Linked DNA regions of Homo sapiens: all the other regions are linked to region 1. The links come from fine-mapping of genetic effects on gene expression. A gene starts in region 1. Each other region holds a variant in brackets. All regions are shown on one strand. Distances are from middle to middle.

Region 1 (2,756 bases):
AATTTAGAAAACTCCCTCTGGTGGCCAAGGGGGACACCATGCTGGATCCGTTCCTCTACCCCACCCCTCCTCTGAGGCTCTGGTGCCTCCAAGCGGCCTGGCCCAGACCTCAGTGCCCTTGGAACCTGGGTCACAGGCTAGCTGCCCTCCCCAAATTCTGCAACCACCCTTCACGCCACCCAGCCCCTTACCCTCCCCATCTGCAGAGTCCTGTTCCTTCTCCCCACTCTGGCCCTGGCCACTCTGTGGATCCTGGTATTGTGTTACTGCTGTTCTACACCACACTCACCATTTGTCAACCATTGTTCCCACTCTTCTAGTCCCCAAAGGCCGGCTCTCCACGGTTTTCCCCATGTGCCCAGCCTCAGTGCCTCTCTTCCTGCTTCACTTTTCAACGTAGATCTGGCAACATCCCAAGCCCCGGCCTCTCCCATCCTGTACGACCCCCAGGCCGCTGGTACCTGATCCAGCCTCAAAAGCAGCTCAGAGTCAACGGGTCCCAGTCCCTAGGGGGCTCTGAGCAAGAGACTCCTCGCCCCGCCCCCCACTCCTCTCAGAGGCTTGACTGAGCACCTCCCTTTTTTTTTTTTTTTTTTTTTTTTTTTTTTTTTTTTTTTTTGAGAGAGTCTCACTCTGTCACCCAGGCTGGAGTGCAATGGCGCAATCCCGGCTCACTGCAACCTCCGCCTCCCAGGTTTAAGTGATTCTCCTGCCTCAGCCTCCCGAGTAGCTGGGATTACAGGCGCCCGCCACCACGCCCAGCTCATTGCTTCGTATTTTTAATAGAGACGGGGTTTCACCAGGTTAGCCAGGCTGGTCTCGAACTCCTCACCTCAGGTAGTCCACCCGCCACGACCTCCCAAAGTTCTAGGATTACAGGCGTGAGCCACCGCGCCCTGCCGCACCTCCTAATTTTTAGATGTTGTCAACTAAGTGATCCCGCCACCAAGCGCAGTCTCCTCCTGCGTCACCGACCCACCGGGTCACCTGTCTACACACCGCCATCTCTTCGCACCCCCTCCCCCTCTTCGACCCGGCTTCTGGCCTCACCCACACCCCCATAGACCCGTTCCTCCGGCGCCGCAGCGAGCAACCGAGTGCGAGGCCCGCCCCGCCTACCGGGCCCTAGCACGCCGGGCTCCCGGACGCCAGGCCGGCCTCCCCCCGCGATCGCCCCGGGCTCTCCCCGAAACGGGCGGGCTCCCGTGCCGCTCCAGTCGCCTCACCGCCACAAGCCTGCACCTGCAGCCCGAGGCCCGGCTCCCCGCGGACCCCGCGGTGTGAGCCCCGCGCGCCTCCAGCCCGGTTCCCGGTCCTCCGGGCCACCCTCTCCACCGAGCTGCGCCCCCCTCGCAGGGAGAGCGGGCTCAGCCGGTGGGCCGCGCAATGCCTGCGTCTCCAGCTCACCGCGTGCACTGCGCGCACCCGAGCGCCATGGCCACTCGGCCCGCGCCACTGAAAGGCCCGGGGGCGAAGAACCCGCGGAACCCCGGCCCAGGACCTCGGGCGCCCGACCCGGCCCCCGACCCCGCCCGCGCCACCCTCCATCGGCCCGCCCCCCAGGCGCCATTGGCCGCGCCTGCTCCGCTCTCCGCGCGCTGATTGGTCGGCGCGAGGGTCTGTCAGACCGGGCGCCGCGGCGGCGGCAGCGGCGGAGAAGGGAGCGGGACCGGAAGGGTCGCAGCGCCCCGGCGCCCCTCACACCCACTGCGGCGGCGGCGGCGGCGGCGGCGGCGGGGCGGAGCGGAGCGGGGCGGGCCGGCGGCGGAGCCGGGGCCGCGGAGCCAGGAGTGACTAGCACGCAGCGCCGCCAGTCCGCCCGCCCGCCCTCTCCCCGTGGCGCGGCGGCGGGGAGGCGAGGTGAGCCCGGCGGGCGGGCTAGGCCTGGCGGCGGCTGCTCGGGCCGGGCCCGCGGGGAGGGGCGGTGAGGGAACCGCGCGGCCGGGGGCTTCGGGGCGGGCCGGGGGCTGCGGGGCCCTGGCAGCCGCAGCCGTCGCCCCTGTGCTGGGGGATGCCGCAGGCGCCCCCTTCCGCCCGGCTGTCAGCAGCCCCGGGCTGCGGGCCTGCTCACCGGCCTGGCCCGGCCGACCTGCCCGTGGGGTCTGCGGGCGCCATCCCTCCCGGAGGTGGGGCAGACAGCTGCACTCCTGCGCCGGGTGCCCAGGGGCCCGGGGTCGCGTCCCCGCGACCTTGGCCAAGGCACTGACCCTCGCTCTGCCGCGGTTTTGCCTTCGGGAAGGTGGGGAAATGTCTCTTCTGGACAGGGTTGTTGTCAGGCTGTGTGAATGTATGCAGACGCCTGGGCAGGACCCCGGTGTGCATCTGTGGAAGACTGGGCAGGGTGCTGGCCCGTGCTGGTGTGAGTGGTGTAGGAACCCCCTCCCCACCCGCCCAGCCTCCCGCCTCCCCGCGCACTCCTCTCTTGCCTTGTCATTGCACACTCGGTGTCCAGCAGTGCCAGAGGGGACCCAGCCCGAATCCCTTACCACCGCGCCCCTCCCCCAGAAGACTGCTGCCCCGTCCCACTCATCTCGCCCGCCTTGAACATGCCAGCCCGCATTTGCCCCAGGACCTTTGCATTTGCTGTTTCCCCGTCTTTGGAGTTGTCTCCGTGATCTTGGCACAAGTAGCTCTTTCTGCTCCTTCCTCTGGTCAGATGTCTCGTTTTGGGTGAGGCCCTCCTCGACCACCCTCTTTCTTCCCTTAGTCATGCTATTTCATTATTTAAAAAATTTCCTTCCTAGCTCTCATCTGGT
Region 2 (2,756 bases), 22 kb after region 1:
AGACTTAGTTATGAATATATGGTAAATGGAGGAGAAAGGGATGGAACAGTCTCATTTTACGTAAGCAGAAGTCAAGACGTTCCCTTCAGAGTTGAAGAAGCGTGAAGATTAGGGGTGTTACTTAAAGACGTAACCAGGGAAAACCCAAAAAGCAGAACAACAAAAAAAATAGGAGGTGTTGGCGATTGGGGATTTCAAGGAAGTGGCCAAATACTCAGTTTTCGTAATGGGGAGTAGGTGAATCATTTCTAAAGCTGATAAATGAAGAGATAGTGATAACAATGTATTCTTTGAGTGACCGCAATAACCACAACCAGGAATAACTGAAGGTAGTTCCTCATGGAGCTGAGCTACAAGTGGGGAAGCTTATGCCCACTTAGATGCTTAGACTTGGTCCATTTGCCTTGTTTTAGCCAAAAACTTTTTTAAAATGACAAATAAAAATTGTATATATTTATCATGTCCAGCATATTGTTCTGAAATATGTATACATTATGGACTAGCTAAATTGAGCGAATTAACATATGCATTACCTCACATACTTTTTAAAAGTTTCTGATGAGAACAAATCTACTCTCATCAATTTTCAAGAATACAATACATTGTTATTAACTGCAGTCACCATATCTCACAGTAGACCTCCTGACCTTATTCCTCCTATCTAACTGAAATTTTGGACAAAAACTTTTGATACCAAAAAAGTGTGTCTGTTTTCAAATTCTTTTTTTCTTTTTCTTTTTCTTTTTTTTTTTTTTTGAGACCCTGGGCAACAGGGTCTCAGTCTGTCACCCAGGCTGGGGTGCAGTGGAGGGATCAGTGCTCACTGCAGTCTCGACCCCCGGCTCAAGCAGTCCTCCCACCTCAGTCCCCTGAGTAACTGGGTCTACAGACATGCACCACCACACTCAGCTAATCTTTGTATTTTTTGTACAGACAAGGTTTCACTGTATTGCCCAGGCTGGTCTCAAACTCCTGGGCTCAAGCGATCTGCCTGCCTTGGCCTCCCAAAGTGCTGGGAATACAGGCATAAGCCACCACACCTGGCCTATTTTCAAATTCTTGAGTCTGAGAAGTATATAGGTATAAATACATACATGGCTACATGTATGTCAATGACTTGTTTCACAAGTGGATATATCCTTCTCATTTTATAATTCATATAAATGGTGCAATTTGCATATGAACCTGTGGATTTACATATGTATATAGACAGACACATAATATGAACTGAATTAAAGTAAGGTAGCTTCTTAACCAAATGCTACAACAGATAGCCTTCAACTTTAAAACAGATTGAATTAGGTTCGAGTTTGGCAAAAGCATTAATAGAAGAGAATAAATGTAAACAATGTTATAAACTCAATGGAATAAAGAAATAGAAACAGTATTTAAATCAGTGCTTAGGTTCTCAGGTGGCCTTTAGTAGCTGTTAGCCCTCATGAGTAGCCCAGAGGTGATAATACAAATGATACTATTTAGTACCAGTTTGAAACCTAAAAATGTGTAATCAGGCTACTTGATTCTTCATGTCTATTTTCTGGAGGAAAATGAACAGAATTTCAACAGGAAACGAGATGCTGGAAACACAGCCTGTAGATTTTATTCTTACTATAGTAG[T/C]AGGAGGAGATAGTTCTAAAAGAACTTTATATAGCAGTTGCTTACGTTAGAGATTTTGTATCTTGAACATTTACCATGAGCTGAAATTTTGGCTTCTTTTCTTTTTAGATACTGTTATTTGTGAAAAAAACACAGTGATTCAAAATTTAGATTTATTCTCCTCATGAATTCAGCCATTTCCTCTACTGTGATATTCCAAAATATACACATTTTAAGACAGGAAACAGTGACTTTGTTTCCAACTTCTTGTCATGTTTAAACTGAAGATTTCATTTCTTGACTGGTTTTATGCACTCTATATTAAATTACCTGGTTTTGAATGTAATCTAAACTATGAAACCTTGGTGTGTGAAGGATTGCTGAACCCCATCTTAACTGTGGCTGAAATGTGCCTCTGCAAAGGAGTTAGTACATGCTGTAGTCTTAGACAACTCACTCTGCTCTTCATATGTGCAAGTACCTTGAATGAAATAAGCAGATTTTTCCTTGTTACTTATTAAAAAGATGATATATTCAATGTATATTCTGGCATTGCTGTATTTTCCAAAACCGTTCTAATGGATTGTGCATTATATTTCCTAATTCTAGTGCTGCATTTGATACAGTTCTTGGGATAAATGTTGCAGTCAAGAAACTAAGCCGTCCTTTTCAGAACCAAACTCATGCAAAGAGAGCTTATCGTGAACTTGTCCTCTTAAAATGTGTCAATCATAAAAATGTAAGTTATGTATGTATTTTGTCTGTGTGCTTCCATATTGTCAATAATGTGGTAATCTTCAGGGTTTTCTGGAGATACATTGAGTTCAGACCTAGGATAAGCTAAGGATAAAAATGGCTATTAACATTGGTTTTTTGTTTTTTGTTTTTTTGTTTTTTTGTCGCCCAGGCTGGAATGCAGTGGCGCAGTCTCGGCTCTCTGCAAGCTCCACCTCCCGGGTTCATGCCATTCTCTTACCTCAGCCTCCCAAGTAGCTGGGACTACAGGCGCCTGCCACCACGCCCGGCTAATTTTTTGTATTTTTAGTAGAGATGGGGTTTCACCATGTTAGTCAGGATGGTCTTGATCTCCTGGCCCCATGATCCACCTGCCTTGGCCTTCCAAAGTGCTGGGATTACAGGCGTGAGCCACCATGCCCGGC
Region 3 (2,756 bases), 21 kb before region 1:
TCCTGCCATTTTCCATTTTAAATACCATTTCCATTTTGTTGACAAGTGAAGAAAAACCAGTACAGATACACCGACCATCCGGCCCACCACCTTATGACGCAGGAGCTGCTGCCGTGTTCACCTTTGGGTTTCTGATCCCACCAGAGCCTCAGACTATTTTATAAATTGGTGGGAGACATTAACAAAAGAACAGAGGTGGAGCTAATATGAAAATAATGCAGTGGCAGCTTCCGAATCTCTGTGTGTATAGAAGTCAGCCCTTTAATGAGATTGAAAAAACACTATCGAACCCTAGGGCGCGGGTGACAGAAGTTAGAACCCCCTTTCCCGCACCCTCACCGCAGTACCCCGTGACACTCCAGTGCCATAACCCAGGGCTCTGAAGAAAGAAAAGCAGAGGAGAATTGGGCCACCTAGCACCGGGCGGCACCTGCCTGCCCTGCAAAGCTGGGACAGACACAGCCAAGAGCAGTGGCCCTGCAAACAGAACAGCCTCCCGACTCATGAGGATTTCAACAGTTTTGATTTTATAGTCTGGCTTATGCTGAATTTAATTTGAGTGCTTTAGGACTCACAAACATAGGGAGCTTGTGCTGGTTTATGCATGAAGCTGTTTAGCTTTATTCTAAAAACAATTTGAGTCCACACTGAGAGGCTTGCAAGAAGTGTCCTTTCAAACAGGATCTAGCTGAGAAACACCACTTGGGGACATTCCTGCTTGTCAGATGTTAAATCTGTTCCATCTCAGCACGTTCTGAATAAGGCAGCTTATTCAGTTGCAGAGAGGGCGCTGGGAGCCAAGCCCACCTGTCACCAGCTGTATGGCTTTGATCAGAGCACCGGTTTCCTCCTGTCTCTGAGCCCTCATCCTCAAGAGGAAAATGGGGACGATGGTCCTCACGGGGTTGTCACGAGATTTAAATGAAAAGATGCTTGCCACAAATAGTAACACACCTTGAATGTAAGAATCAACCGAAAAGGCTGTTGAGCGAGCGTTTTCCTTTCTGAACACCCGCTGGCTGTGTCTCGGGCGCCGATTTCCCTGTAAGAGCCGGCGGTGAAGGAGGAAGGGGTTTGGGGTGGGGCCGAGGCTGGCGGAGCGCGGCACTGAGAGGGCCCCTGGGCGGCAGGCGAGACCGCGGACACCCTCCTGGCGCTGCGCTACTGTAAGGACCGCGGCGCTCTCACCGTGGGCGTCACCAACACCGTGGGCAGCTCCATCTCTCGCGAGACCGACTGCGGCGTCCACATCAACGCAGGGCCGGAG[A/G]TCGGCGTGGCCAGCACCAAGGTAGGAGGAGCCACGGGCGCCCGTCCCAGGGAGAGCCTGGCGGAGGCAGGTGCACCAGAGGCCGCCCTCCTCCGGCCTGCTCTGCCCGCGCCACCGCCTTTCTTTCCCCTTCCCGCCTCACCCCTTCTCTCCGCTCCTTTCCTTTCCCCTCCCCTCTTGGATTCCCGTATCTTCATTTTTTTTATTTTTATTTTTATTTTATTTATTTATTTTTTTTGAGACGGAGTCTCACTCTGTCGCCCAGGCTGGAGTGCAGGGGCGCGATCTCGGCTCACTGCAAGCTCCGCCTCCCGGGTTCACGCCATTCTCCTGCCTCAGCCTCCCGAGTAGCTGGGACTACAGGCACCCGCCCCACACCCGGCTCATTTTTTGTATTTTTAGTAGAGACGGGGTTTCACCGTGTTAGCCGGGATGGTCTCGATCTCCTGACCTCGTGATCCGCCCGCCTCGGCCTCCCAAAGTGCTGGGATTACAGGCGTGAGCCCCCGTGCCCGGCCCCCATATCTTCATTTAGTCTCATTTTATTCCCATGCCACGTTCCTGTGTTTCGTCCATGTTGTCCTGTGGCTCTTTGAGCACCTTGGAGATGCTTATTTTAAAGTCCTTTAGGGCTGGCACGGGGCTCCCCCCTGGAATCCCAGCACTGTGGGAGGCTGAGGCGGGAGCATCCCTTGAACCCAGGAGTTCCAGACCGCCCCGGGCAACCCCGTCCCTTCAAAAATAAAACTTAGGCCAGGTGCGGAGACTCAGGCCTGTAATCCCAGCACTTTGGGAGGCCGAGGCAGGGGGATCACCTGAGGTCAGGGGTTTGAGACCATCCTGGCTAACACGGTGAAACCCCGTCTCTACTAAAAACACAAAAATTAGTCGGGTGTGGTGGCGGGTGCCTGTAATCCCAGCTACTCGGGAGGCTGAGGCAGGAGAATCGCTTGAACCTGGTAGGTGGAGGTTGCAGTGAGCCGAGATCGAGCCACTGCACTCCAGCCTGGGTGACACAGCAAGACTTTGTCTCAAAAACAAAATAGAAATAAATAAATAGATAAATAAAACCTAAAAATTAACTGGGCAGGGTGGTGGCACCTGTAGTCCCAGTTACTCGGGAGGCTGAGGTGGGAGAATCACTTGAGGAGGTTGAGGCTGCAGTGAGCCGTGATCTCGCCACTGCACTCAGGCGTGAGCAACAGAGTAGACCCTGTCTCAAAAATAAAAGTTGATTTAAAAAGTGAAAATAAGGTCCCTGCCACCTCCTTCTTTGTGCACAGGCTTATACCAGTCAGTTCATCTCTCTGGTGATGTTTGGTTTGATGATGTCTGAAGACCGAATTTCACTACAAAACAGGAGGCAAGAGATCATCCGTGGCTTGAGATCTTTACCTGGTATGTTCTAGAATTCAGCTTTCCATGTTTTCAGATCTAGTGGACTGTTGCTGGCCATTCTCTGTTGACTCTCACCTGTACAGGATGTTGT

What was found. PIP is the estimated chance that this variant, and not a neighbour inherited with it, causes the effect. A credible set is the group of variants that fine-mapping cannot tell apart.
Region 2: its variant is the best candidate, but not a certain one, in a credible set for the expression of MAPK9 in monocytes after interferon gamma (Fairfax 2014, PIP 0.67).
Region 3: its variant is the best candidate, but not a certain one, in a credible set for the expression of MAPK9 in monocytes (TOPMed, PIP 0.70).

The regions. Positions count from the first base shown.
Region 1 is chr5:180,290,952-180,293,707 of GRCh38, reverse strand. It overlaps MAPK9 (mitogen-activated protein kinase 9), which reads left to right and starts at 1,625. Exons shown (of 12, transcript NM_002752.5): 1 at 1,625-1,860. It overlaps LOC124901151 (a long non-coding RNA gene), which reads right to left and starts at 1,476. Exons shown (of 2, transcript XR_007059085.1): 1 at 1,408-1,476. RefSeq lists an enhancer at 505-1,147 and silencers at 1,070-1,409, 1,420-1,789, 1,920-2,109.
Region 2 is chr5:180,268,859-180,271,614 of GRCh38, reverse strand. It overlaps MAPK9 (mitogen-activated protein kinase 9), which reads left to right. Exons shown (of 12, transcript NM_002752.5): 3 at 2,206-2,335. Among named protein-coding and RNA genes, the nearest start is that of MAPK9, 22 kb to the left of the region's middle. The variant T/C (reference allele first, on the strand shown) is at 1,618.
Region 3 is chr5:180,312,339-180,315,094 of GRCh38, reverse strand. GFPT2 (glutamine-fructose-6-phosphate transaminase 2) reads left to right here. Exons shown (of 19, transcript NM_005110.4): 14 at 1,131-1,288; 15 at 2,551-2,665. Among named protein-coding and RNA genes, the nearest start is that of MAPK9, 22 kb to the right of the region's middle. RefSeq lists an enhancer at 1,052-1,346. The variant A/G (reference allele first, on the strand shown) is at 1,268.